Linked DNA regions of Homo sapiens: regions 1 and 2 are each reported to be linked to region 3. Evidence: microRNA targets listed by miRTarBase, many of them from high-throughput screens and not tested one by one. Region 3 holds a microRNA gene; each other region holds the end of a gene's coding sequence.

The links. Region 3 holds the annotated microRNA hsa-miR-6792-3p (CUCCUCCACAGCCCCUGCUCAU, at 2,968-2,989, shown strand). A microRNA usually pairs through its seed, bases 2 to 8, with sites in the 3' UTR of a target mRNA and lowers its output. Matches are read on the target gene's strand: a 7mer-m8 pairs with bases 2 to 8, a 7mer-A1 pairs with bases 2 to 7 and ends in A, and an 8mer does both.
Region 1: miRTarBase lists FCRL4 as a target of hsa-miR-6792-3p. Seed matches in the 3' UTR shown: 7mer-A1 at 3,635-3,641.
Region 2: the mRNA of SPTA1 is a reported target of hsa-miR-6792-3p. Seed matches in the 3' UTR shown: 7mer-m8 at 5,223-5,229.

The regions. Positions count from the first base shown.
Region 1 is chr1:157,570,550-157,577,858 of GRCh38, forward strand. FCRL4 (Fc receptor like 4) reads right to left here. Exons shown (of 12, transcript NM_031282.3): 11 at 5,150-5,181; 12 at 3,198-5,061. The coding sequence ends at 4,975. Among named protein-coding and RNA genes, the nearest start is that of FCRL5, 22 kb to the left of the region's middle.
Region 2 is chr1:158,605,824-158,613,132 of GRCh38, forward strand. It overlaps SPTA1 (spectrin alpha, erythrocytic 1), which reads right to left. Exons shown (of 52, transcript NM_003126.4): 51 at 6,994-7,138; 52 at 4,881-5,566. The coding sequence ends at 5,441. OR10Z1 (olfactory receptor family 10 subfamily Z member 1) reads left to right here. Exons shown (of 2, transcript NM_001004478.2): 2 at 503-6,691. The coding sequence starts at 616. The coding sequence ends at 1,557. Among named protein-coding and RNA genes, the nearest start is that of OR10Z1, 4.2 kb to the left of the region's middle.
Region 3 is chr19:7,614,513-7,621,821 of GRCh38, forward strand. MIR6792 (microRNA 6792) reads left to right here and starts at 2,927; the gene lies at 2,927-2,993. It overlaps CAMSAP3 (calmodulin regulated spectrin associated protein family member 3), which reads left to right. Exons shown (of 17, transcript NM_020902.2): 12 at 671-810; 13 at 906-1,207; 14 at 2,011-2,110; 15 at 2,814-2,926; 16 at 3,031-3,149; 17 at 3,240-3,792. The coding sequence ends at 3,545. It overlaps XAB2 (XPA binding protein 2), which reads right to left. Exons shown (of 19, transcript NM_020196.3): 13 at 6,623-6,785; 14 at 6,334-6,524; 15 at 6,035-6,157; 16 at 5,763-5,934; 17 at 5,434-5,563; 18 at 5,235-5,344; 19 at 5,013-5,135. The coding sequence ends at 5,074.

The sequences.
Region 1 (7,309 bases), not on the chromosome of region 3:
ATGGTCTGCTCACCTATTTTGTTCCCATGACCCAAAGTTCTTTTCTTTTTTTTTTTTTGAGAAGGAGTCTCGCTCTGTCACCCAGGCTGGAGTGCAGTGGCACGATCTTGGCTCACTACAAGCTCTGCCTCCCGGGTTCACGCCATTCTCCTGCCTCAGCCTCCCCAGTAGCTGGAACTACAACAATTTTTTGTATTTTTTAGTAGAGACGGGGTTTCACCGTGTTAGCCAGGATTGTCTCGATCTGCTGACCTTGTGATCCGCCCACCTCGGCCTCCCAAAGCGCTGGGATTACAGGCATGAGCCACCGCTCCTGGCCGCAAAGTTGTTTTCAGTCATAGTATTGTCATTACCATTTTCTCATTATTGTAGCCATGCCTTCTTTTGTCTCTGCTACTCTGAGACTCCATCATTATCAGGGAGCCTACTTGTGAGGCAATGTCTTCACCTTTGTCCTTGACCTATTTCTGTTATACTTTCCAAAGGTGCTGATACTTTTATCACTAATGTATTTTTCAACGTTCTGTGGAAATACCCTTTTAAGAGATATAGGGTACATGTGAATGGAACATGTGTGATATATCGATATATCCACTGCCACAATCCCATCTCTATAAATCTTTGAATTCTTCCCCTACGTTATACCAAGGACTTGTTATTATCTCAACTTTATTTTTCCAAGGCCATTGTTGCCTACAGATTTTGATCTACCAAGAGAGAAACTAATTAGAATCACTCCCAGCTGCTTGATCTAGTCCACTGAGTCGAGAGTCTCTTCCAAGTGTATCTGTACCAATTCATTTAGCCTCAAACAGAATTATATTCCTCTATCCTTGGTCTACTATTCTTAGCAAAATATACAGATTTCTGCTGTTAAAATTAATAATTAAAGAAATTCTATTAAATCTAATTCTTCCTTTTTGGGGATTTATTGTGCAATCGGGTGTCTGCAACATGTTGGGATAGTATATTAAATTGTTGCTTCTATTCTTTTAAGGAAGAAGCCCAACATTTGACAGGCCTCTGGATCTTGGAAGCAACAGATGTCACATTTGGTTGCTTGTTCTGACTCAATAACTGGATAACTCACAAACCTATCATCCTTGAGTGGACCCCTGAGCAAGCAAGGGGTCTTTAGCTTGTCTAAGCTACAGTGCAAGCAGCACTGACCTTAGCTTTTAGGATCCAGCATATCCAAAGAGCCCAAAACTGTCATGGCTGGTCAGAATGTTGTGTAAAGGCTACAGCAAGGCTCTACAGGAGAATCACAGTTGAGAACCATAAAATTTTGGAGCAAAACTATGTTCTCTTCAAGTAACTTTTCTTTTTCACTGAACACTTGAACATGGCCCACCAGAGACCTGAGCTGTTCCCCATGAACTGGAAGCTGTCTGATCCACAAAGCAAAAATTCATAATATATTGAGGATTATTCCATCATTAAGTGGAAGTGATTTGCAGGAGGTCTCACTCCAGAATGGTCTGAAAGCAATGGTAAGTTGAATAAACAATGAATAGCTCATATTCTGCTGCTCTTTTACCTCTCTGTTTCAACCAGCAACTATGACCTGGTGGTGAGTTCCCTATGACCAACTGACAGAGGAGGAAAAAACAGTCTATCCTGGTTTAAATATGCCCTCACATCAGCTGAGGGTGACAATTGCAGCACCTCAACCACATTCAGGAATCCCTGGAGGATTGTGACAGAGATGGGTATTCCCAGTGGTCCACTTTGACTGGAAGATGAGATGTCCAGAGGTGAGGCTTTACTCTGATTCATGAGCAGTGGCTAGTGTTTGGAGCTGTATGGTCAGGAATTTGGAAAGAATAAAACTGCAAGATTAGGCAAGAATCATATTGTTGGACCTCTTTGAATGGATCCAGAGTATGAGAATATTTGTGTCTTATGAGAATACTCACCCAAGGCCTTACTGAGGAAGATCTCAGGAATCAGGAGGCTGTGATCATCTGCTCTGGCTGAATGTCAGGCAGCCTCTTTCTCCAGTTACTCCAGCAATTGCTCAAAGGGCTCATTAATGAAGCGGCCTTGGTGGAAGGTGCAGAGTTTATGGAAGGATTCAGTAACATAAGGATGTACTCACCCAGGCCAGTCTGACCACTGCTAAGTGCCCAATTGACATACACAGAGGCCAAACCTGAGCCTCTGATGGAGTCAGCTCCTCAGGGGCCTGTGTACTCTGTGGTTGTGGATTATTTGCATTGGATCCTTTCCATCATGGAGAGGGCAATGATTTTCCTTACTGAAATAGTTGATTCATTCATTCAAAAATATCGATTAAACACCTACTATGTACCAGGCAGAGTTCTAGGTACTTGGGGTATATCAATGAACAAAGAGAACACAGTTTGTTGCCCTTAAGAAATCTAGTTTTTAGAGAGATGATATGCAGTAAGTGTAGTAAATCGGCAACGTTTGTTTCAAAGTATGTTTGAAAGTGATAAGCGCTATGGAAAGAAAGCAAATCAGGGTAATGGAGACTGGAGGTGCCAAAGATGGGGGGAAGTAGTTTCCAGATTTACATGTGCCTCAAAGCCTTGAGTCACCAGGGCAGACCTCAAAGCCTTGGTGGATATCAGGGAGGAAGAGCATTCTAAGCAGAGAGCAGCCCATGCAAAGGCCTCAAACAGGCATTTACCTGATGTGTGCAAGAAGCAGTGCAGAAGGCAGCGCTTCCTCAGTGAAGTGCTAAGGGGAAGAATGGCAGAAGACTGGAGGCAATGGGAGCGATCAGGTGGAGGCTTGTGGGCACTTAGGGCATCTGGCTTTCACTGTAAGAGAGATGGGGAGGCACTGCAGGGTTTTGAGCACAGTGACCGCAGTGCTGAGAATGGGCTGTGGGGACGAAAGGGAAAAAGAAGGGAGACACGAAGCCACCACTGTAACGGAAGTGAGCAGCACCTCAGACAAGAGTAGAATAATGGAGTGGTATAACGAGGTGGTCTTCTGGGTGTAGATATTTTAACTCTTTATTATGGAAAATTAAAACTTGCAAAAGTAAAGAATAGTATAAGCCTCCTCTTCTTCCCATAATGTACCCTTCACTCAGCTCCAGAAATGGTGCACATATGACTGATCCTGCTACATCTATACCTACCCACTTCCTACCCACCCTCACCTCATCGGGTTATTTCAAACCAAATCACATCATTTCATCTACTAATTTCATGTACGCCGAATTTACGTTAATAAGCTTTAATCTAATACTTCAGTATAAGCGCTGAAAGTGAATATCCTTTTGCTTTTATAAAAACATCACTACAATAAACTATCACTTATATCCAAAACACACAACAATTTCTTAATATTAGTATACAAATTTTTCTTAGTATTTCGTAGGTAGTTTTATTTTTTCTTAATTTGAGTCAGGATCCAAACAAGACCCACACATTCCTTTTGGTCGACATGTCTCGTCTCATTTAATTTATATGTCTTCTATTTTTCTTTTTCTCTTTTTTTGGGGGTGATACATGTGACAAATTCATACACTCATATAATTTGTAAAGATCAAATCAGCGTAGTTGGGATATCTGTCACCTTAAATATTCGTCTTTTCTTTATGTTGAAAATATTCTAATTACTTTTCTTCATTTTTCTTTTCTTCTCTCTCCCTTTCTTCCTCCCTCTCTTCTTTTTATTTCATTTTTTTCCCATTTATTTGTTATAGAAGCCAGGTGATTTGCCCTATAGAACTTTTTCTCAGTTTATGTTTTGCTGGTTGCAATCCCATAATGTTATTTAAACAAATTCCTTTTCTCCATGCATTTTCTATAAAACAAGTATTCAGTTAGAAAGACTTGAATGGATTCAGTTTTAACACTTGGGGCATGGATAATTTGTAGGTGGTATTGTACACTTCCATCAGGAGACCTCTAATATTTGGCTGCTGGTTTTTGTCAATTATTTAACCAGTAGGTGTATCATGAAATATCCATACAAATTTGTGGCTTCCTATTTCTTTTATTCCTTCTTCATTTATTGCAAGAATTATTCTCATATAAACTAATTAGTAACTCAAAGACACAGTTCCTACAAGAAAAGCAACCTTATTTCCTTTGAGAAGGGAATGGTATTTAGAGAATAAAACCTCTCTGCAAGGAGTGCTTATTGCTAAGGGGTTGGTAATTATTTCAGTGAACAGACGTAGGAAATATTTATCTTTTTTTAAAGGCAGAGTTTATTATGAGTTTATACTAATATTTTAAGTTCAAATTTAGTTTTGGAGAGTTGGTACTTAAGTTTTTAATTTTATATTTGTGTCTCTTTTCTCTAATGTTGCAAATCTTTGTCACTAATGACATTAACATAATTATCATTTGCTTTTGGAAGCGCAGCCTAGAGCTTGCATCTCCAGCTCTTCTGATGTCCTCTTTTAAATTCCTCTCTCTGTAAACCATTCCAGATGGGTTCTTTAATCTGCAACTGAATCCTGACAGTGTAAGCTGTGCAGGCAGAAGTGAAGGGGCTTTTCATTGTTTGCACAGTGCCTGTGCAGCCACTCACAGTTAAACAAACTGATGCAAGTGAGTCTCCAGTGAGACAATGGTTGTAGATGTATTAAGCAGAGATCCAGGTCACCCAGTCTTTTTCATCTCTGCAAATCCCAATTCACCAAAATTTGTGCTTCTGTTTTTCATAACAGTCCTTCTCTCTCTTTATCCCCCTTCTCTAAAGCAGACCCTAGGGAATACATTAGGTCAGGCCCACAGCAAATACTACAGGGTCTTCTCTTAACTGTGGATCCTGGTCATTTTAGTGAAGTCTTTCAGAGGCCATTCCATCCCAACATCAGAGTAGACGAATGAGTATTCCTGGGAGTGAATGCATATGCATGAGAAGAATTAGAAAGCTGGAATGAGTTGATCATTCCAGGGGCCGCAAGGACTGCACTGGGCCTGGGACTTTGGACAAGGGAGAAATCACATGAGTAGGACGTTCTCGTAACTTTTCATTCTCTTAACTTTCTTCATCCTTAGAGCTGATCTTTCCAGCTGAGTTATCTGGGTGTTGTGTCTTTACCTCAGAGTAGACAACTGAGACATCCTGAAATGGAAGAAAGAAGTGGAAACCGAGAGGGAGTGTGAGGCTGCAGGTAATGGTGGAGATAAAACTGTGGGGAAATGAAACTCACCTTATCCTCTAGAAGTGTCCTGGAGGTATTAGCTGTGGACAGAAAGAGAATCACTGGACTATGGGCATAATGATGCACTTAGAACTCAGTCTGTTAGCTGATGCCCTAGAGTCTGAGAGCCACTGGGCCCTGTCCACCTCATCCCCTCCACCTCATCCCCTAACATGTCCTGCAATACATATGACTTTCTGTTCTACCATTTCTTAACCCAGCCCTCTGCAAGTTCTTTTCAAGCTCCATTGATCCGTAAAGTCCTCCATCAATACCACACTAAGAAACCTCACACCCTTCCTCTACCAGATATTGAGAGATAATTTTTTTCTTAGTTTTAGTTCTTGCTTCTCTTAACTTACAATACTGTCATCTCACCACCCCCGATTGTTTGGCAAGTTCCCATTAGAGTACTCCATATGCATGCCCTGTGAGAAAAACTCTCTCCTACATTAACAAGTTCTAGTTCTTGATTTTTATTGCCATGATTTCCTAGAGTTGGAGCCAGAGTGAGAGGTAAGTTTAGCAGATGTGATTTGGTGAACCATGCATATTAGAAATTAAGAGTCTCAGAGTAAAAGGTAGAATTATCAGAGCAGCAGAGCAATTTTATGGAGAGAGAGAGCCTGAAAAACAGATACACTCTGGGGCACTTGAGGTTTCTCTCTGTTTCTTACTGTATTGTTACCATATTCTTACCCCAAACCTTTAGGGGTTACAGATATTTTTAATAATATGATGGAAGCTATGTACTCTCCCCAGAATAATGGTCATATGTACAAAACTTTGCATATGATTTCAGGGGCTTCATGTAAACCTTAAGGAACAGGTGAAGAAACCATTCTACAAATCATTAATAATTCAAGTGTCTGAAATGTAACTAGTCCATCAACAGAATGCTTGGCTTAAATGGTGTTTTGATAAATATGTCAAGGAAAGAGTATGAAGAAAAGCAAAATTATCAAGACAGCTTTATAAGATAAGATGTACTCAATCAACCCAAGAAAGGTAGTGGCCATTCTAATGCTGCCATTCAAAGGGGATCCTGATTAATGGAGGTGGCTCAGGGAACAAAGTGAAAGACAAAACAAGTGATCAGGTGATATATGTTGGTCAAATATAGTAATAGGCTGTGCATGCAGAAAATATAGCAAGACAGAAGACTTGGTCTTAGCTTTGTCCTTTACTGGCTTTGTGACCTTGAGAAAGTCCTTCTCTGAGTCTTATGTGTAATACTTCATTTTCATAGAACACCTTCAGCATCAGGTTACAACTAAAATTCCTAGATTTTAACTTCCCAAGTGAGGTGCCATGGGTGGATTTATACAAGAAATAGAGAGAATTGCTTGTTTCCTTGACTCTAAGAACCCAGGTTAATCAACCAAAGCAAGGAAGTGTGGGGAGGAAAAAAATAAGAAGATTGGTTGAAGCGATGTCTTTAGAAAGATGGATCAGTTTATGTCCAATGTGTCTCTGCTTTAGCTTTCTGAGGTGAGAGTAGCAGGTTATAGCCCCCAGCCTGGTGAAGGAGATCTCAGAAATTCCTCTTGAACTTCTGAAGTGATTTTGAAGTGATTTCCCTGATACTGGGATATAGAGCTCCCACCTCAGAAAGCCAAAGTGGACCATAGGTTGCAGTTACCTAGAGAGGTATTTTTCTAACAAAAGATCTCAATTTGTTAGTGGGTCTTGAAATGGGGTCTGAATAGGATTAAAGAAGTGAAGTAGAACTTCAAGAAACAATTCAGCTTATTGTGGCCAAAACGGACTAACAGGGACTGGATTTATCTTCCCATTTTAAACAATGAGAAAAAAGGACAAAACAGTGGTTTTCAGATATTGCACCAGTTTACCACTAAGCTGTGCATGGACTTGGGAGTTTAGAAAGAGCCTGGCTTCTGGCTTGAGGCCTTGCTGACTTGAAGTGACAGAGACCAACAGTTCTGTTTTACTGAAGCAGCTAGAATTTGTAGGACAGTACCAGAGAGACAGGAGGAAAACAGATCGAAAGCTCCAGAAGTCTGCAGAGAGTTCTCCTCAGGTCTTAGGCTGAATACTGATAGGCATATTTGTAAGATGAAAGTATCTTAGGCCGGGGTAAGAACTACCAGAAAAGAACAGGCAGAATAATACCAGAAGCTGATGCAGATTTTGTAATTAATGGACCAT
Region 2 (7,309 bases), not on the chromosome of region 3:
AACAAAATCCATCAAGATCAAGTTTCCCCACCTCCCCACAAAGTTCTAACAAGCAATATGGGTGTGTCCATATGTGTATTCTTATGTGATAGTGTATGTATAAAGACAATATAAACGTATATGTGGTGTGTGTATCTTTATATGTGATGTGTGTATCTACGAATTTGCATGCTATCTATATACATATGTGTTTGTAATGTATGTGCCTGCCTGATATATTTGTGGATATGGCCATTAATAGCAAATGTATAATTTATAGTTTTGAATGTGTAAGATATGCATAATTATGTGTGAATGCTATAAAGCATATATACACCTGCATGTATGTAGTCATACATATGTTTGTGTGCAAGTATGTGCATATGAATGTCTGTGATTGTGCATCTGTGTATGTGTATATGTACATACAGTCATATGGGAATGGACCCATACATTTGTGTCTAATTTAACAAATACTTTTTTGAAGTTTGAGTAGAGTCTAAATCAGAGCTGCCTTTTTAAGTTGCAACAGGAACAAGAGAAAAAGAATCCATATCATCCACCTTTTAAAGAAGTTAGGCATCTACTGGCAAGGTGGAAGAAATCAACAAATCTATCAGGGATATACCTCTCAGAATGGGGCAGACCAACGTAACCTCCTGGAGGGATTTTGTCTTCCTGGGCTTCTCCAGTTCTGGGGAGTTGCAGCTCCTTCTCTTTGCCTTGTTCCTCTCTCTGTATCTAGTCACTCTGACCAGCAATGTCTTCATTATCATAGCCATCAGGCTGGATAGCCATCTGCACACCCCCATGTACCTCTTCCTTTCCTTCCTATCCTTCTCTGAGACCTGCTACACTTTGGGCATCATCCCTAGAATGCTCTCTGGCCTGGCTGGGGGGGACCAGGCTATCTCCTATGTGGGCTGTGCTGCCCAGATGTTCTTTTCTGCCTCATGGGCCTGTACTAACTGCTTCCTTCTGGCTGCCATGGGCTTTGACAGATATGTGGCCATCTGTGCTCCACTCCACTATGCCAGCCACATGAATCCTACCCTCTGTGCCCAGCTGGTCATTACTTCCTTCCTGACTGGATACCTCTTTGGACTGGGAATGACACTAGTTATTTTCCACCTCTCATTCTGCAGCTCCCATGAAATCCAGCACTTTTTTTGTGACACGCCACCTGTGCTGAGCCTAGCCTGTGGAGATACAGGCCCGAGTGAGCTGAGGATCTTTATCCTCAGTCTTTTGGTCCTCTTGGTCTCCTTCTTCTTCATCACCATCTCCTACGCCTACATCTTGGCAGCAATACTGAGGATCCCCTCTGCTGAGGGGCAGAAGAAGGCCTTCTCCACTTGTGCCTCGCACCTTACAGTGGTCATTATTCATTATGGCTGTGCTTCCTTCGTGTACCTGAGGCCCAAAGCCAGCTACTCTCTTGAGAGAGATCAGCTTATTGCCATGACCTATACTGTAGTGACCCCCCTCCTTAATCCCATTGTTTATAGTCTAAGGAATAGGGCTATACAGACAGCTCTGAGGAATGCTTTCAGAGGGAGATTGCTGGGTAAAGGATGAAGGTTACCCCAATAGGACACTTTCTTCTGTGTAGGCTGGGCATAGACCAAGAACCCAAGCCAAAGGGCCAGGTATTCAAGGCCTCAGGCCAAAGCTGTCCTACCCCCAATCTTCTGGGAAAGCCTTATCCTGCCTCTTGCCCTTCCCCCTGACTGCTTGGAATGCAGAGGCGGGGCTTCCTGCTCTGCTCACTGTGCACAACTCAAAATGAGCCCAAAATCTGAATTTTAACTTTCAGCCTCCTAGATGCCACCCCTAGTTACTGAAACCCATTGAGAATTAAAAATTTAATTAAGATAATCAAGAATTTTTTAATTGAGCTGAACAAAATGAGGGAAGTTTGGAGTGTTCAAGTTCAAGGCAGGGCTGGCTGGAGCCCATCAGGGATACTGTAGAGATTTCTAAAATCATTACATAATTAGACTATTTGACCTGTAATGTTCTTCCAAGATTTGAAACCTGGGGAATATCAGCTTGACAGGTTAGTTTAAAGCTTTGTTAAATGAACAGGTGGGTCATTTTTACTCCCACTGGGTGTCTTTCATCTTTTTATGTTTTTATTTTTTTTAATTTCAACTATTATTTCATATACAGTGGGGCACATGTGCTTATACATTCCTCATTGTGCTATTGACAGTAGCAAAAACATGGAATCATCTTTTTATATAGTTGTCCTCACTATCTCTGACTCTGTTACTTTGCCCTTTTTGTTTTGATTGATTTTCCAAGCTGGGTGCACTCTATTTCAGAAAATATATTTACTTCCTATTTTTTTTTATAACTGTTAATGTTCCCTGGTAGCTTCAGAATCTTGAGTGTCAAAGACCTTTCTCATTTGGGTCGCTTATCAAATTGGATACTGTTCTTTTGAATCTATTGCAGAACTATCTATTCTGCCTATTCCACTTTCCACATATAATGTGGTTATATATAGCGGCGGACATTATTAGAGAAAGTGTAATGAACTCACAAGACCGTCAGGCAGGAGTTTGAATCCAAACTCTTCAACTTACTAGCTGTGTGACTCTAGGTAAGTTATTTAACATTTTTTTCAGCTTCCGAGTCTTATCTTTACAATGGTTGGTGACTAAACAGGATCATGCATACAAAGAATTTAGCACAACCCTTGGATCATAGCGATCGTCCAATAAATTCCAGTTGCTACTATTAAAATGTGTGAAGGAAAAAGATATTGGCTTTTAGTTTAGGTAGAGTTTACTCTAGGTGGAGGATCAGAGAAGACTTCATGTCTTAAATAGTATCTGAACTTGTTCCTAAAGGATGGGTGAGCTTTGAATGCACTGACTGGGGAGAAAGTACATTCTCAGAAGAGAGAATGTAATAGCCAAAGGCTTGATGGTAAGACAATATAAGCCTAGTTTAATGTGTGTGAGTTATTCAGAGGGGCTGGAAACAACTCACAAATGATGCTGAGAAGTTAGTTTGAGTCATGACTTACTTGTTGAAATAATTTGAATACCTTGCTTCAGACATGGTCCTTTTGTCTATAGGAGATAAGGCACAGTAAAACGTTGAACAGAGAGAGGCATCTGGGAAGGGATTCAGGAAGATTAATCCAGCAGCAAAGGGGATGATAGATTTCAGTAGAGAGAAACCAGAGGCAAGGAGATCAGCAAGAAACCCATGGATATCAGCTTAAAAAAAGGCAAAGAGGCTTGAATATGGATAGTGACATTCAGAGACTGAAGGAAATCACAAACATGAGATTTTGAGAAGGTAGAATTCACAGGATTTGGCAGTGAGATAGAAGTGGGGCATGGCTTGAGAGACAAGGAAAGACCTTAGGCCGAGAAGATATTTTTCAGACAGAAATCCATATTTTTTCATGCTTTCAGGAAAGAAATACATCCTCTAATTGGAATTTGATGAAAACAATTTGAGAGGAAGGAAGCTAGAGCTCAGAGAAGAGAACAGGATGAAGACAAGTAGATGAGTTAGTCAGATAGCCAAAAGGGCCTCATCAGGGGAGAAAGGCCATCTACTCTGAAGTTCTCAATATTGGAAGAAGTAATGCCTCATTGCACTGAGGCCATGTGAGCAAATTCATTTCACCAGTTCATTCAGTCTGCCCAGCATAACATTGACTAAATGCACAGTGACGAATGGTTAGTAAGGATGTTTCAAGTATTGCTAAGTAATACTTAGAGGTCTAACTTCCACATGTAGTAGTCTTAAGTATGGAAGGGTATAAAATCACTTGGAGGGATTTTTCCAAATAGGTGTTTTTGGAATCTATCTAATTTGTTTCTACCTTGAAACAATTGATTTGGGATAGGGACAACATAATAGTCTTCAAAATCTCGTTTGGTGATTCAAATTTCCTCTCTTGATTAAGTATGTGACTACGCGCTTAGAAAGGGCAAACTCTTCTTCCAGGTACACACATTTGACCCACTAAATGACTAATAATTTGATTTAGGCCTTGAAAATTTTTGGCAGGGTTAGCATTGGGGGAATGGAATCACATCCACCTTTGCTTGTGATTATTTTCAGCACAAATAGTTTTAGACTATCCATATGTGGTAAGTGTGATATTAAACAATGCTAATTTTCGATGGCCTATATCTTTTCTAACTGTACTATTTTTGGTAACTTATAATCAGGCAATTTAGACATTTGTGAACATTAATTTTGAAAATACTTTCTGCTTGTTATATTCCATAGTATTTGACTATTTAAGAAAAGAATCACTAAAATACCTGTATGTTGTTAGTATCAATGATAACTTTTTAGCTTTAACCAACTTTTTGTTTAAAAAAGGCTCCTATGACAGGATTTGTCCTGCACAGATTCATTTCTATGCAGAGGAAGGGACTGAGACTTAAGATGGTAATCAAGTGGCAACATGAATGGATTGGTAAGTGGGGACTATTTGTGCAGAACGCTAGCAGTTTTATACACAGCAATTAAGATATCTAAGAATTCTCACCAGCAAATGACACCATTACCTTTTATAGATCAAATCAGAATGTCGGCATATAAACCTGTTCAGAATAAACCTGGCCTGAAAATTTTTGAAGATAGCATCACCTCTTCTTTTTTTAAAATTAATTCTTAATTTTATAAATAATTCTATTAACTGTTACTTTAACAGGATATTGAAGTATTATTTTTATTACATTAAAACTTAAGAGAAAATACGGGAGCTTGGAGGACAAGAGAAAGCCCTGCTATGCTGGAATTTTGTCTTTCTGAGAGTAATAACATCTACAATAATTTTGAAGTATGGAAAAAAAACAAGAAGAAAACAGGTGTTATGCTGATCTGTGTGTTGTTTCATTGTACAAACTAAAATATTCATGTTCCCCAGAAAATCAAATATCTTTATTTTCAAATTTAAATTTAAACACATTCCAAAGTTTAAAAAAATTGTTTGAAAATTGCCTTGGATTTTATTTATCTACTATACCATGGCCCTTCTTTACAGTAAAATTAGCTGCCCACTCTTATATGAGTACAGTTCCCAGAAATATAGAAGCTCAACATTTTACTTAACTTTGCCCCAAAAAATATTTTTAAAAAGAATTACTTTATTCTATAATCGGAATAAAGCAAAATGATAAAGACGTGCAAAACAGAACAAATAAAAATAGAAACTTTGACACCCCTCAGCAGTGACTAGTTGCATACAAAATAGCTTCCACTCCTCCAACTCTATTAACCTTTCTATCTCCCACCCTTGAGATTTTTTAAGATCCTACAATAAATGTAATATGCACACAAACACAAGCACACACACACACACACACACACACACACACACACGAGGCCATCTTTATCTTCCACATTTGCCTGTACTCTTTGCCCCCCAGTAAATTTCCCACGACACTAAGATTTTCTACGATCCACGAGGAGCTGCTTATTAGTTGCCAAAGTAGGAATTGGTGAAGCCAACGTAGTCATAGCCAGAGAGATGGCTTCGACCCCGTGGGTCCATATATTGCTGCATATGTGTGGCACAGAATGACACTTGCTCTGGGGTAAGGGCCTGAAAAGTATAAAAAGAGAAAAATACAGTTATAGGGATTCAAAATAGCTGGTTCCTTGGGGCTTCCCATATTACGCCATAAATGCAGGAGATGGAGAGTCTCTGGAAGACGCAAGCCCTATTTCTATTACACACAATTTTTATCTCATAAATTTATAATTTCTAATGAGTAACTTAACTTTTAATCTCAGCCCTTTCTTGAAAAAGAGAGCTTACTCACTTTGATTATTCTGTAAATCTCATTCCCTAAAGTTGTTTTATTAAATAGAAGGAATTATATGCCTAACAACATTTGTTGACCACTTGATCTATTTCATCTTCCTGGCTGCTTTGAGATGTGGGGACTAGCATGTTTTATGAGTAAGGTAAAATACTCAAGAAGGTAGAATAACTCACCAGTGGTTACACTGCCAGAAAGTGGTAGAGCTGGGACTTGAACCTATGATCCTCTTATGCCAAAGAGTTCCTCTATTCACTGTGCTGTTTGATTACCAAGTGGATCCCTAAAGACTCCAATAAGTTAGCGTGTGGGTGGGTGGCTCCAGATAGTGTCTGGAAGACCACATCATTTTCTTTTTGTAACAGCTTTGTCGAGGTATGATTGATAAAGAATTGCACCTTTAATGTGTACAGTTTGATGAGTTTAGACAATTGGATGAGTTTGTGCAAAACGATACCATCATGTATGTGACCCTTTGTAATCTGGTTTCTGCTTAATTGTTTTCCCTTTCACTTTCTGTTACTATCTTCTTACCTTATGCTTTAGGTATTAGGAAAATCTGTTTTCTCAAGTTCCTTTGCACACACACTTGCCTTTGCCTGAAACACTTAGGCTTTCCTTTGATGACTTGATGAGTTCCTGCACGTCCTTCAACACTCACCCTGTGTTAATCATAGATGATACTTTCCCTGATGCAAGTATTTTAAGGAGAGGAATGAAGAAAGCTCTTGGAATCAGAGAGAAGAGAGATTACTTCTGGTTGTAATAAAATTCCCCACATCTTTGTTCCCATGACAGATGTGTTTGCTTCTGTTACAGTGTTTTTAACTTGTAAAGTTCTGTCTTCCCCACTACACCTGAATTTAGGGACTGTGTCTTACTAAAGTTTGCACTCCTCATGCCTGGAACATAGTAAGCATTCAATAAATGCTCTTTGAATTAATGAGGAAAAAAAAAAGAAATAGCCTTAAAAACTGAGTTGCAGATTTTGAATTGACTCTCACATTCAATAGAGTACCACAGTACGTTTTTGAGTTGGGTCAAGACAAAATGAAGTGGTTACCAAAGCAAATGACATCTTGTGAAAGGGGAGGTCTGAAAAAAAAAAACAAGTGGGTGGGTTTTTTCAAAGTAGGCCACCGGGCCTGAGATGACCAGAATTCAAATTAGGATGACAGTGTAGTAGGGGAAGCAACCAGAATCGGACCTGCTTCATGTCTTCTTTGGTAATATATGACTTGCCCTCTGCCAGGGCTTGGAAGGCATTCTCTATTTCATCACTGGACTTGATGTTTTCTGACTCCTTGTCAATCAGGAAAGCAGTATAGTCCTCCAGTGAGACATAGCCCTTCCTGTGGGAGAAATGGATCAGGAGCTGAGCCTTCTCAAGGCAGAGAAGGAAGTCCCCTTTTTAATCCTACTCAGTGTCTCAGAAACAGAGGAAAGCCAGATTCTCCAAGTGCCTCTTCCAACTAAGCTTTCTGGGATGAGATGGGTTATGCTCTCCATTTTGGCTCCCCTTC
Region 3 (7,309 bases):
ATTTTTGCATTTTTAGTAGAGACAGGGTTTCTCCAGGCTGGTCTCGAACCCCTGACCTCAAGTGATCCACCTGCCTTGGCCTCCCAAACTGCTGGGATTACAGGTGTGAGCCACCGCGTCTGGCCTGTACTCACTTCTGACTTAGTCCTGCGCCACTGTCCTCAGCTCTGTGTCCCAGCCACACTGGCCCCCTTGTACTTCCGTGCCCCCCAGTAGGTTTGCTCCAGCCTCAGGGCCTCGGCACTAGCTGTCCCCTCTGCCTGGAACGCTCTGCTCTGTACGCCCACCTAGTTAAATCCTGATCATTCTACAGGGTACTTCCTCTGGGAAGCCTTCCTGGGTGTCTCCAGGCCAGGCCGGGGTCCTCCCGCAGTGTAGAGTGTCTGTGCCCAACACGAGCTTTTGCTGGCACTCACTGCTGTCTGCTGCTTTTGTCTTCCCCGTTGGGTTAAGCAGTGTGTGTGTGAGCGGCACCCAGTGTATCCCATCCCTGTTGTGTCCCAGTACTTAGTGTGGGGCTGTGCATACAGTAGGCACCAACTAAGTGCATTTAGAACAATGATGAAAACAAAAGCACAGGTGGGTGGCGGGCAGGCTGGGTGGAGGGAAGATGGGCCTCCAGCCATGTTGGGGGAGGGGGTGGCTGGCTGGACTCGGCGTCTGTCCCCAGGATGAAGACAAGCCTGAGGACGAGATGGCCCAAAAGCGGGCCAGCCTGCTGGAGCGGCAGCAGCGGCGAGCAGAGGAGGCGCGGCGGCGCAAGCAGTGGCAGGAGGTGGAGAAGGAACAGCGGAGGGAGGAGGCCGCGAGGTGAGGCCGGGCCTGCCCGGGACGCCCGCTCCTTGGCCTGTCTGCCACCGCGGACCCCGTGAGCGGTTCTGATGCCGATTCCCTGTGATCTGCAGGCTGGCCCAAGAGGAGGCCCCGGGCCCAGCCCCGCTTGTGTCCGCAGTCCCGATGGCGACTCCAGCCCCTGCTGCCCGGGCTCCAGCCGAGGAGGAGGTGGGCCCCCGGAAGGGGGACTTCACGCGGCAGGAGTACGAGCGCCGGGCCCAGCTGAAGCTGATGGACGACCTCGATAAGGTGCTGCGGCCCCGGGCTGCGGGGTCCGGGGGTCCAGGTCGGGGCGGGCGGAGGGCCACCCGGCCTCGCTCGGGTTGCTGTGACGACTCAGCCCTGGCACGAAGCCCAGCCCGCGGCCTGCTGGGTGAGGACCCTTGGGGGACGGGGCCTGCCCAGTGCCCTTTCCGGGGCTCACTGGGTGAGGCCCCCATGGGTAAGGGGGGAGGGGGAGGGAGATGTAAGCAGGGGTGCCGGGAGGGGGCGGGTATGTGGGGTGACAGGGGGCCTCAGGTGGGGTTGGACACTGTCTCTTGGGTAAAGACTTCCATAGGGGGCCGGGCGCGGTGGCTCACGCCTGTAATCCCAGCACTTTGGGAGGCTGAGGCGGGCGGATCACCTGAGGTCAGGAGTTTGAGACCAGCCTGGCCAACATGGTGAAAGCCCATCTCTATTAAAAATACAAAAATTAGCCGGGCATATGGCATGCCTGTAGTCCCAGCTACTTGGGAGACTGAGGCAGGAGAATCGCTTGAGCCTGGGAGGTGGAGGTTGCGGTGAGCCAAGATTGCACCACTGTACTCCAGCCTGGGCAACAGAGCGAGACTCCGTCTCAGAAATAAGACAAAAAAAAAAAAAAAAGACTTCCATAGGGATGTGGGGTGCAGTGGGATGAGGGGTCTTTCTTCTGTGGCTTCATGGATAGGAACCTTTGGGAGTATGTTTGGGGTGAGGCGTTGCCAGTAGGGGCTGACCCAGTGCTGCTCCCCACTTGCCTGCTGGGCAAAGCATCCTCCCTCATAGAGGGGTCCCCCCATAGGGGTGCTGCAGAGGGCCGAGGGGTCTTGGGCAGGACTGACTCCTCCTGTGTTCCCCCCACAGCCTGCTGGACCGGGTGTTGTGGAGGGCAGGGGCTTCTGGTGGGCACTGACCTGCAATCTCTGTCCCCAGGCTCTCGGCTGAGCAAAATCTATTCCCAGTCCACCCTGTCACTGTCCACTGTGGCCAACGAGGCCCACAATAACCTCGGGGTGAAGAGGCCCACGTCTCGGTGAGTTTAGCCCGCACAGGCGGGGTTCGTATGCCGGGTGGCTTCCCAGAGCCTGGGAGGTGTGTGGGCATCTGGGTGAACCTAGAGGGCGGTATGGCTCGAGTTTATGGATACGCCATGAAGAGATGGAGGGACGCGTGTGGGCACGTGTGCATGGGGCATAGTCTGTACCTGGCAGACAGGACTCAAGCATGTGCCTCAGTGCACTTGAGTGCCAGGTGTTCCTGTGGGAGGAGGACAGCACGGGGCACTGCATGGACTTGGGAGGGTGTGCAGTGTATACCGCCTCCTCTGCAGTGTGTGTGGCCCGCCTTTTTTTTTTTTTTTTTTTTTTTTGTTTTTTTGAGAGGGAGTCTTGCTGTGTCGCCCAGGCTGGAGTGCAGTGGCGCAATCTTGGCTCACGGCAACCTCCGCCCCCTGGGTGCAAGTGATTCTCGTGCCTCAGCCTCCTGAGTAGCTGGGGTTACCCGTGCCTGTAGAGACGGTGTTTCACCATGTTGGCCAGGCTGGCCTCGAACTCCCGACCTCAAGTGATCTGCCCGCTTTGGCCTCCCGAAGTGCTGGGATTACAGGCATGAGCCACGATGCCCAGCCGTGGCCCTTATTTTCCTTGGCCCCTCTGCACATAGGGAAGCTTCCCATCTCTGACCCCACCTCCATCCCATCCTGACCCCACCTCCATCCCATCCTTCTCCCACTGCAGGGCTCCCTCCCCGTCAGGTCTCATGTCCCCAAGCCGCCTGCCTGGAAGCCGCGAACGGGACTGGGAAAATGGCAGCAATGCCTCCTCCCCAGCGTCAGTGCCCGAGTACACAGGTAAGCAGGGGCTCTGGGTGATGTGAGGAGCAACAGGCACCCTCCTCCACAGCCCCTGCTCATTCCTGCTGCCCCCCACCCCCTCCCACTGCCTCACCCTCTAGGTCCACGGCTGTACAAAGAACCCAGCGCCAAGTCCAACAAGTTCATCATCCACAATGCCCTATCACACTGCTGCCTGGCGGGCAAGGTGAACGAACCGCAGAAGAATCGCATTCTGGAGGTGAGCCCGCCCACACGTGGGAGTTGGGGGCTGGTGGGTGGGTGGGTGGCCTGACTTGGCCAGCTGACCATTTCCAGCACTCCTGCCCAGGAAATTGAGAAAAGCAAGGCCAACCACTTCCTGATCCTCTTTCGCGACTCGAGCTGCCAGTTCCGGGCGCTCTACACGCTGTCGGGGGAGACAGAGGAGCTGTCGCGGCTGGCAGGGTATGGGCCCCGGACCGTCACGCCCGCCATGGTGGAAGGCATCTACAAGTACAACTCGGACCGCAAGCGCTTCACCCAGATCCCCGCCAAGACCATGTCCATGAGCGTCGATGCCTTCACCATCCAGGGACACCTCTGGCAGGGCAAGAAACCCACCACTCCCAAGAAGGGCGGCGGCACCCCCAAATAGCCCCACCCGGGCGGTCCACGGGCCGGGCCCTGTGTGCTGCGGCCGCCATCCCCTGGAGGACAGTCAGTCGGTATTCCTGGGTCCTGTCTGTCCCCAACCGTGTCTGGGTGGGGCTGGAGTCTCCACCCTCTGACTTTGAGTCCAGTCCTGCTGTGGGGGCTGAGCTGGGAGGTTCAGGGACTCAGGGCTCAGCTCAGTCCCCTTGTCTGTCCTCCCCCACTTCTTGAATAAAATAATTTAAAGAGAAGTTGAACCTTGTCCCCCCCTCCGAGGCTGGCCGGGGTCCCACACTCCCTGGCTGTGTTTTTAGTCTCCTGTTCTTTCTCAAACCAACTCCTGTCTTCAACCCCCATAATCCCCTAATGCAGCTTCAGCCAGGGCACTCCCAGCCCCCAGCCAGGGCTGTTTCGAAGCTGCCTCTGAACTGATCTCTCAGGCTCGAGGTGTCCCACTGGCCCTTCCTGTGGCCTTGGCCACCCCCGCTTGCTGGATTCTCCTGGTCTGTGTGGCTGTTGTTACTGGCCCTAACCAGCGTTTGGCATGGGGCCAACTTCTAACTTGATCTTGTCTCCCCTGGCCAGCCTGGTGTTTCCAGGCCTGGCATCTACCTCTGGGCCAGTGATTCCAGGTTTCTCTGAGATCTGTGTTTGACAATCCAGTTGCCCCCTGCCATTGCCTGGGTGTCTCTCTCAGATGCAAGGCCTGCCCTGCAACCCAGGCTGGCACTGGCTTCCCAGCTGCCGCCCAGTTCTACACAGCTCAGCCCTCCCCTCCTGTCTCACTCGCTTCTCTCCAGCCCTGTCACCTCCCTGCAAAGTCCAAGCCAATGGCCTGGGCCTCCCCATGTCCCCAGCTGCCTCCTGCCCACACAGCAGCCTGTGTGACCCGTTCGAAGCACAAATCTGATTATATCCCTTGATACTTAAAACCCCTTAATAGCCTACAGCCCGCTAATGGCTTCCCAGGCTTAGGACTAAGGACCACGCCCTGGTCCTGGGCCGTGCACAAGGTCTGGCGCCTGGCCCCCGTCCAGGCACAGAAACGCGTTACTAATCAGTTCCCAGAGCTGGGCCAGAGCCTGCCTGACTCCAAGACTTGAGGGCAAGGGCCAGTCCCTAGTGGGGAACAGACAGTGGGTGCCACCCCAGGGAGGCGGCAGCTGCCTGGGGCCACAGAAGGGCTCTGAGAGGCAGGGGCTGGCGAGACCTGGGCAGCCAGGGGCTGGATTGCCCTTCCCAGGCTACAGAGGCTCAAGGAAGTTTCCGGGCAGGACCCACTCCAAGGCCCCAGGCAGCGGAGGGACTGGCCTCTCGAGTCCAGAACTGGCTCTGCGGGGTGAGGCCGGGCAGTATCTGGCCTGGGGCCCAGCCGCCCCACCTCCCACAGCAGCCAATCCCGGCCCAGGGCCAGGCACTCCTGAGCTGTACTCCCTCGGGCACCTGGGCAGCAGGAAGGAGGCTCAGACCATGATGTACAAACGTAGCTGTATTGGGGAGGGGGTGGGGAGGGGGGATGGGGGAGGGACGGGTCAGTCTTCCTTCAGGCTCCCAAACACTGCGGCTGGCACGCTCTGCTGCTCCAGCCGAACCTCTGTGGGGAAGGCGGGAGCCAGTCACCCTCCTGGCGTTGGCCTGTCCCCCGAGGCCCACCCTGGTAATGCCACCGTCCCCGCCCCAGCCGGGCCCTCACCGTTGGGCTCCAGGTCCATCTCGTCCTCGTCCTCGTCCTCGCCCAGCTGGATCTCCTCGGGGTTGACCTGCTGTGCCAGCTCTGCCAGCTCCTCCCGGGAGGCGTCACTCCTAGGGACGGGCCATGCTGCCTCAGTTCCCCACCCCGGGCCCCCTTGGGACCTGTCCCAGTCCTGTCCCGTCCAAGGATCCGCCCTCACCTCACGAACAGGATCTTGCTCTGGGCGCGCAAGGGCTGGTCACGCTCCGCCTCAGCCGCCAGCTGCTCTGCCCGCTGTTCCAGCAGCTTCATGTCGTCCATGCCACTCTGCCCAGGGGCCAGGTCAGACACTAGGGGGTGGGAGCAGGGGGTCAGCGCCACGGGGGCCCCTCCCACACATCGGACGTTGCACTATCCCAGTCCCCCAGGTGATGGCCCAGCCCTCAAGGAGATTGCCATCAGGATCCGAGGCTCCCAGACCCGGAAAGCCCAGGTCAGGCCGGGCTGAGATGCCCTGGATCAGGAACTCAGCCAGCTGGGACGGCTCACCGGTGCCCGTGGCACTGCCCGAGACCTTGAGCATCTGCGAGGCCATGAAGTTGACCTGCGTGTTGTACGTGGCCTGCACGCTGCGCCGGATACGCAGCATTTCCTTGATGGTGTCCTCATTGCCATGCCGGACCTCAAAGTCCTTCCACGTCTGCCAGAACGCGCCGGTCGTCTGCGTGGGGGGCAGGGCAGGGGTGGGTGTGTGTGCCCGTGAGCTGGCTGACTCCGCCGCAGCCCCCAACCCTGATACCCGTCCCTCCCCACAGCCCTACCCGGGGGTCACAGATCTGGGAGCAGAAGCTGTAGATGGCCCGGGCGCGGTCAATCTCCCCGAGCTTGCACTCCATGTCTGCAAACCGCAGGCACATCTCACGCGCGTGCTCGTCCGACAGCACCTGGACACCGGGGTTGGGGAGGCCGGGAGTGAGGCCGGGGTAGCTCGGGGGCTCCCAACACACCATGGCCATCCCTGTGCTTCCAGAAGGCTCCTCCTCAGCCCCTCCCACCTGCCTGGACCCCTTCCGTCTGCTCAGGGACCTCTGGCCCCGGCCCAGCCCCCCACGGTGGGTACCTCAATGGCCTTCTGGTAGATGCCGCGGGTGTGGGTGACCCCATAGATCTCGGCCGCCCGCTTGATGTAGATGTTGAACATGTCATACTGCTGGGCGGGCTCCACGGCCCTGGTGGCACGCTCGTACACGGCCATGGCATGCCGGGCCAGGCCCCACTCCTCCTCCAGCTGTGCGTACAGCAGGTACAAGGCTGGGCGGGGTAGGCGGGGAGAGGGGAGCACGGTCAGCCGGGGCCAGTCAGAAACCCAGCCCGCCCGCCACCCCCCCCATGCCCTCTGCCCGCCTCACTCTTGGCATATTTTGGGGGGCAGCCGTCCAGAGCCTGTTCAAACAGGTCCCGTGCCCGCTCCAGCTTGCGGCCCCCATAGCGGGCAATGAATTTGGTCAGGTAGGTGCTCCAGATGTCGGACACGTTGGGCCACTTGAACAGCGAGATGCCGCGCTCGTACGCCTGTTACCAGAGGGAGAGTCACATGTGAGAGTCTGCAGATAGAGACCACCAGGCACCCGGGATGTCCTTGGGTGGCGTCTGTAGGGAGCCTGCCAGGAACTCCCTTGGGGCCCTTCCCTGTCCACGCCTCCCTGTCCCTAATGGCAGTTGTGGGGGTCTGTCCTCTGCACTGTCTCCCTCTGTGAGAACCCCAAGAACAGGGGTGCAATGGGACCTGCTAAGCACAGTCTGGCCCCATAGGAGGTGACATGATGGGTGAAGGTGGGTGGCTCCCCAGCTCCGCTGACGCTGGCTGCCTGTCCCCAGGGAGAAGGCCGCACCCCCTGACAGAGGGGCAGGCAGTAGCACGCGTATGCATGTACGACCTCCCCATTTGTGTATCTGTATAATGCCCACACGATCCATAGAAACACACACTCAAACATGACTGCTCCGGCCGCGGGACATGGCCTTCCCACGGACACGCAACCCACCCCCTGGACCCCACAACCCGTCTCCTGAGCAGCGGGGCAGGGAGAGCCCGC